Homo sapiens: one gene and its partner. The protein of the gene in region 1 purifies or fractionates together with the protein of each later gene. This does not show direct contact. Each region holds a gene or a part of one and is shown in the gene's direction. Other genes may lie near its edges.

Region 1 (3,752 bases):
TCAGTCCCTATCTGTAAAATGGGAACATCAGTACCTACCTCCTGGGTAATTGTTAAGAATTAATGAAGCAAATAGAAACACATGTAAGGATTATCACAGCCACAGTCAACTCATTCAGAAACCAAATCACCCATTTTCAGTTGTCCCCTCTTTCACTCTAGGTGATTGTGAACCCCCACTATGAAGTGGCAGAGTCAGATTTCTCCAACAATATGCTGCAGTGCCGCTGCAAGTATGATGGGCACCGGGTCTGGCTGCACAACTGCCACACAGGTAACTCCGAGCCACTGTGGAATCAGCCATCTATAGGCTCAGGGAGCTGGAACACTGTAAATGTACCCTCTGCTCCCACACTCCAGCGTGTGACTTGTATGTGTGTGGTGTGCAAAAGGCTATGGATGGAACAGAGATGCATTTCCTTTGACATCTTACAAGGCAGACTTCTAGAACTGGTCAGACCATCGGCTTCACCCAATAACTACATCTTCTACATCCCTGTTTGCACTTAAGGCTGTTTGATTGTAAACTCAGTTTCCAATCTGTTCTAGAATCTTTCCTGTCACCTCAAGCCATGTCAGGATTTTCAAGTCCATTATTTTTCCTTTCTCTTTCATATAGAAGTTAGGGTTAGGGTCCTCACAGGCAAAAGTAGTCCTCTTGCTCTGTGTTGCTGTCTCCAGCTGTGATCACTGCTTGCAAGAAGGGGACCATGGAAAACAGAGCCACTTACAGGATTGGTAGCATCAGTCAAAGGAAGCATCATGATCCAGTGGGGGCAGAGAAGAGGGGCTGTTCTGTCAGTAAAGACTCCCTCTATCTTCAAGGGTTAAAAATGCCCATATTTGCTATGGGATATGCATTCACTCATACTTGCATATGTGCGGTGGGATGGGGCAGAGTTGTTCATTTAGTCAACAAACATTTACTAAGGCTCACTATTGTGTTGAACGCTGTGCCCCAGAAACTGGGAATGTAAGTGTCAGATAGGGTATGCACACATGCAAATAGCCCCAATACTACTAATGTGTGGACTGAATGCTGAGCAAGCACAGACAGAAAGCAACCTGTTGGGGGCTAGCACAAGCTTCACAGAAGTAGTATTTGATCTGAGGTTTGAAGGAGGAGCCAAAGTCAAACATGGGAGGAGTAGAGAAAGAGCACAGGACTGGGCTTTGGAAGGCGTCACCCGAATCCAGTCCCACCACTTTCTAGCTGGAGGACAGTGAGGAAATCACGACCTGAGTTTTCTGTTTTGTAAAATGGGGCTGTATACTTCAAACTTACTAAGTACTAGAGCTTTTTGCAGGGAGGGTTGTGATAGTTCTAAGATAATGGATTTTATCCCGTGGGCTTCTGGGAACTATTGACAAATTTCAGTCAAGGAGGCAAAAGATCATTTAGGTTTTCAAAAAATAACTGTGGCAACAGATGGACGAAAATGAGAAGAGGAAGAACAGTCTAAGGTTTCGAATTTGTGTGGCTGAGTAGATTGTGCTGCCACTTAAATGAAACAGGGATATTGAGAGGAACCAGGAACTGGAATCCAAGGCTACGCACACGGAGACAGCAGATCCTCCATAATGCTAGAATCAGGCTGCAAGGGTTCCCAGGCAGTGACAAGGGCAAGAAAAATAATGCAGTCCTGCAGGTCCTCTTGCCAGTGTTTAGGATCCAACAGGGCTAAACAGAAGTGTGCGGAAAACAGAAGGCACACTCGGGTGAGAGTCTGAGTTTATTTAATTAAAGGACTATTTATAAGAAAACAAGGAGTGTTGAGACATCAAGCATAAAGAAAGTAGAAAACCGTTATCTGCTTTAGGCTTGAAGAGGGGCAAGGGCTGCTTTGCAGCCAGGTGCAAGCCAGAGTTGTGAAGGAGGGTGAACCTAGCTGGAACAGGAGTCACAGACCATCACTGCCAGAACCACAGGGCCAAAGTAGGGGAAGGAATATCCGGCCTCTCTCCTTCCACCCTCTGACCTTCTGCTGTTGCTTTCCATTGACCCAACTCAAACAAACAAAAAAAGAGGACAAAGGAGCCAGAGTGATGTAATCGCTAGGCATCAGCTTCCTAGGGCACAGAGGGAAAAAAGGGCAGAGAATGAACCTGGGGAGGGGGGCAAAGGAGAATAACTAGCACAACTCTTTCCAATCAATAGCCTGTTCTTCCTGATGTTCCTGAAACCACACACCTGTCCCAGGCCTATTTCTATAAAATGATTGGTGTCTGTGCCCATGCCATGACTTGATATAAAGGATGAGCTGGGCAGAGTGGATCTATGTAAGTTGTCAGGGAAGGGATGAGACTGGAAAGGTTGGCTACTTACCTGTTTTCCTTTGGCCCACAGGGAATTCATACCCAGCCAATGCAGAACTCTCCCTGGAGCAGGAACAGCGTCTCAGGAACAACCTCATCTGAAGCTGTCACTGCACACTCCTAGCTGCTGCCGATACACCAGATACCTCAGCTTATTGGAGCCATGCCCTTCACAGAGTCCCAACTCAGAGGAAAAGGGCCAGTGCCAAGGGGCACCAAGAACCTGCTCAGGAAGCCTTTTGATGGCAAGATCACCAATCCAGATGGTATTGCTCCCTCAGGATGGCTCTGGGCCTGCCCCTAAGGGCCTGTGGCCTATGGAATATGTCCTCCAGGCTTTGCTCAGCTGAGCTCCTCTTCTGTAAGGAAACCCAGTCATCCCTGAATCTTGCCACAGAGATCCGGGATTCAGGAGCTCTCAGTTTCTTAGGGATGGACTATGGCCCAGTCCCCCATCTAAGTGGTGCTTTGCAAATGTCTTGGAGGAGTATAGGACAGAGGACCAAAATACACAGCAGGTAGTGTTAGCTCTCTGCTAGGAGCTCAAAGCAACACAACTTGTATCAAAATCACAACTGGCAGAGAAGCTGGTGGATCCAATCCTTTCTTCATCTGTTGTTATTTAGAACTCACCTCTCACACTCTGTTCTTTAGTGTCCTTACCTTTATCTTACCACACACATGGGTGTTTCTATTATCCTTGGAAGCACAGACCTCGGGCATCCCCTTATTGCCTGATGGGCCAACACCAACAGTTACGGAGTGCTTGAGAAGGGGCAAGTTTCACAGAAATGGCCAGATAGGGCCTTCCTACAGAGCAGCAAGAGTAGGCCAAGCAGAAAGACTGCTGAGGTAACACGGACCCCAGCCCCTGTCAGGGCCTCTGCCAAGGAAATAATATGGACCATTTACCTGGCAGGCAGTCTGCTCTCTCTCAGGATCACCACGCATCTCAGGATTGGTCTAAACTTCAAGTCTCAACCAAGTGTCTGAAGTGAACTTTGCATTGAATAAATTTTTGCCATGGAAAGAACATCAAACAAGCCACTCATCTCTACAGAGATAAGAAAACAAGTTTGGCAGAGCAAGAGACAGAAGACCGTGGAGAAATCAGAAGGGGGAACAGTCAGTTTAGTTAAGGATGGAACCTGGGAAAGGCCACCATTCCTGCTTGATGGGGCTCTGATTTGCTCTTGCTCAAGTGGAATAAAACCCCATGGTCTTCTTGACATGATTCTTGATCTTTTCTCCACTGAGACACACTTAAGTGATGATCCTTACAGGACTGACACCCTAATGCCAATAAAAGTTGCTCATTATGGACTGCTACAAAGACCAGACCAGCTGTGATTATGTACACACCCCAGAACCACAGACCTACCCTTTTGCCTCCCATGGAGCCAGGGCCTGGGATACACAGGGCACACATGCTTCTCA
Region 2 (3,652 bases), on another chromosome or scaffold:
TTTTTTTGAGACGGAGTTTTACTCTTGTTGCCCAGGCTGGAGTGCAATGGTGCAATCTCGGCTCACAGCAACCTCCATCTCCCAGGTTCAAGCGATTCTCCTGTCTCAGCCTCCCAGGTAGCTGGGATTACAGGCGCCCACCACAATGCCCAGCTAATTTTTTGTATTTTTAGTAGAGATGGGGTTTCACCATGTTGGCCAGGCTGGTCTTGAACTCCTGGCCTCAGGTGACCCACCCTCCTCGGCCTTACAAAATGCTGGGATTACGGGCGTGAGCCACTGCGCCTGGCCACAAATGTTTTTTATATTGATATTTTACAGCCCAAGGTTTTTAATAATTTACATACCTTTAGGCCAAGCATGTTCTCTCCAGTTTGATACAGAATCATCACCCCCCCATTATGACAACATTTATCTGCTCGGCCCCTGATGACATTTTCCTCAGGTCTCCTGCTGGTTGTTCCTGAGAGTTTTATCACCTATAGATTGTAAACAACCTAAGTTGGCTATAAATATTGTTGCTAGGCTGATGACATCAGGGAGGGCTGAAGACAGAGGGAATGGCAGTAAGGTATGAATGAGGAGGAATGAGTTCATGTTAACCCAAGGATAAAGAAGATCTTCGCTGTTGCCCAATAAAGAGAATCAGGGTTCAGTTGCAGAGGGCCCATATTCTTTCTTGCTCTTAGGGATGAATAAGAGGGAACCCCCACACGGAGACACTGCTGGAGAGAGTCGTACTGGGGAGGCAGCTGGAGCAGCAAGATGCTGTCGAGACCGAAGCCAGGGGAGTCCGAGGTGGACCTGCTGCACTTCCAGAGTCAGTTTCTCGCAGCTGGTGCAGCCCCAGCAGTGCAGTTGGTGAAGAAAGGAAATAGGGGCGGTGGTGATGCCAACTCAGACCGGCCTCCGCTCCAGGACCATCGGGATGTGGTGATGTTGGACAGTGAGTTCCCATGGATGTGAGGCTGAGAAGTAGAGAGGGTACAGCCTCGGGCCCCTCCCTCTTCCTGTTGTGGTTGGATTCAGACACATCATTATTATTTCAGACACTGCATAGCCTGTGTTTCTGCAGCCCCATTTTACAGAGGAAGAAAATGAGGCTCAAAGAGGTTAAATATCTTACCCAAGATGACACAGCTTGAGCCAGGGCCCCATGGCAGCTGTCTTTCTTCCCTAGCCTGCAGTGTCTTCCTAGGAAGGTGTGCATATACTCACGTTTGGGATCTTTTCTTTCTCAGATCTCCCAGATTTGCCCCCAGCTTTGGTCCCTTCTCCTCCAAAGAGAGCCAGGCCCAGCCCTGGCCACTGCCTGCCTGAGGATGAGGACCCAGAAGAGAGGCTGAGGAGGCATGATCAGCACATCACTGCTGTCTTGACTAAGATTATTGTGCGTCTCACTCTGGCTGAGTAGGATAAGATGTTCTAGGGCAACAGGGATATTGGATGCTCGGGGTGGGTGAGGCTTATCAGTGGAGGGTGCTTCAGAAAGGTAGACTTTTACCCCTGAGGTCAGGTTGGGGGCTGGGTTAGAATCACTGCCCTGAAGGGAGGAGGGTCCGTAACCCCCCAGAGTGAGGTTCTCATCGTTCAGAACTGGGCTAATAGGATCGGGTCCAGCCTGGGGAAGTTTCTCCATTGTGCTTCACAACTTTGTGCTTTGTTGCTACAGGAACGAGATACAAGTTCAGTGGCCGTGAATCTGCCTGTGCCCAGTGGTGTTGCTTTCCCTGCTGTGTTCCTTCGCTCGCGGGACACACAGGTAGGCAAGGGTAAGCTTAGGTGGTGCTCAGGAGACAGACAGGTGAGTCTCATAGTGCATCTTCTCCAGGCAGGTAGTTTTAATGATGATAAGCAATTTAATTTACAAAGCAGGATCATACTAAGCACTTCATACCCATTACTTCTTTTAATCTTCATAACAAACATATAAGGCAGGTATCATGATGATACCTTGGGGATGAGGAGTCCTTATTCCCATTTTTCATATGAGGAAACTGAGACCCCAAAGAGATAAATAACTTGTCCAACACCACACATCTAATAGGTAGAAGAGCCAGAACTTCAACCCAAGTCTGTCAGAGTCTAAGACCTTTACTCTTATAGACCTCTCCTTTTTCTGAGAACTAGGGTTGTGATCCCTGGAAATTGAGCAAATCCCCTTTTATCTCTTTGTTCCAGAGGCCTTGATATAAAGAGGTTGAGAGGAAAGTGGGATGATGAGCATCAGTAACCTGGGTTTTCTTTTTGCCCCACAGGGGAAATCAGCAACATCTGGTAAGAGAAGCATCTTTGCCCAGGAAATTGCGGCAAGGAGGATAGCTGAAGCCAAGGGCCCATCAGTTGGGGAAGTTGTGCCCAACGTGGGCCCACCAGAGGGTGAGCCGGGGTTGAAGAGGATTGGGCTTGGCCTTTTTAAAAGACACAATCATAGGGTCATTTTTGAAGATATGTCTTCCTGCCTCAAATGAGAGGTGCATTTGAGCCATCTCAAGTAGTCTGAGAATACTAGGTATGGGAGGCTTGGGTCCATATCTGGGTCTCAGGTGCTGGGAGTGGGGCAGGCCATTATGCAGTCCTAAGAGAAAGGGAATAGGGCAGAAGTGTCTGGCAGAGACTGTAAAATAAATGTGTTGGCCAAGATCCCTTTAATGATGCAAATTATTAGCTTAACAGCTGGGAGCAGGCCCCTGGCTATAGATGCCTGCCTAGATATCTAAGAGGAGTCAGAAATTAGGATGTTTCTGAGGAAAACCTTTTCATATAAGTACTAGGGAAGCAGTGAGTGGAGAAGCCACCTGGAGTCCCTGTGCCAGACCCAGTGGGGTCTCCACTCTGAGGAAAGTTTGGGTCTATACCTGTCTCCAGGGCTAATAGCCTTATAGAAGAAGGCCAAAAAGCCCAGTTAGAGCCCTGGAGGACAGAGCAATGAATGTGATCATACCTTTCTTCCAGGTGCCGTGACCTGTGAGACACCCACTCCTAGGAACCAGGGCTGCCAGCTTCCTGGGAGCAGCCACAGCTTTCAGGGACCCAATCTGGTCACAGGGAAGGGGCTCAGGGATCAAGAAGCTGAGCAGGAAGCCCAGACTATCCATGAAGAGAACATAGCAAGACTGCAGGCCATGGCTCCTGAGGAGATCCTGCAGGAACAGCAGCGGTTGCTGGCCCAGCTTGGTATGGGTGCCTGGCTTTCCTGCTGAGACCAGGCTAGGAGAGGAATACCACTTATTGAGCTAGGCTTACTGTGAGTTCCGGGCACTGTGCTGAGTACTTTAATGCTTTTTTTTTTTTTTTTTTTTTTTTTGAGATGGTCTTGCTCTGTCACCCAGGCTGGAATGCAGTGGCACGATCTCGGCTCACTGCAACCTCCACCTTCACGGCTCAAGCAATCCTCCCACTTCAGCCTCCTGTGTAGCTGGGATTATAGGCACACACCACCACACTCAGCTAATTTTTTTTTTTTTTTGGGGGGACAGAGTTTCACTCTTGTTGCCTAGGCTGGAATGCAATAGCACAATCTCGGCTCACCACAACCTCCGCCTCCCGGGTTCAAGAGATTCTCCTACCTCAGTCTCTCGAGTAGCTGGAATTACACGCATCTGCCACCACGCCCAGCTAATTTTTTTATTTTTAGTAGAGGTAGGGTTTC

The links. Proteins that work in one complex are often made in the same cells at the same time.
Region 2: the proteins of LOXL4 (region 1) and RPAP1 purify together in Homo sapiens (affinity purification with mass spectrometry; one large-scale study listed by BioGRID and IntAct). This does not show direct contact.

The regions. Positions count from the first base shown.
Region 1 is NC_000010.11:98,247,586-98,251,337, reverse strand, and holds the end of LOXL4 (lysyl oxidase homolog 4 precursor), read left to right. Parts: intron 1-161; coding exon 162-273; intron 274-2,346; coding exon 2,347-2,417; 3' UTR 2,418-3,648; downstream 3,649-3,752. UniProt on the Homo sapiens protein: Catalyzes the oxidative deamination of lysine and hydroxylysine residues in collagen and elastin, resulting in the formation of covalent cross-linkages, and the stabilization of collagen and elastin fibers.
Region 2 is NC_000015.10:41,534,239-41,537,890, reverse strand, and holds part of RPAP1 (RNA polymerase II-associated protein 1), read left to right. Parts: intron 1-689; 5' UTR 690-765; coding exon 766-946; intron 947-1,241; coding exon 1,242-1,390; intron 1,391-1,672; coding exon 1,673-1,762; intron 1,763-2,258; coding exon 2,259-2,379; intron 2,380-2,955; coding exon 2,956-3,177; intron 3,178-3,652. UniProt on the Homo sapiens protein: Forms an interface between the RNA polymerase II enzyme and chaperone/scaffolding protein, suggesting that it is required to connect RNA polymerase II to regulators of protein complex formation.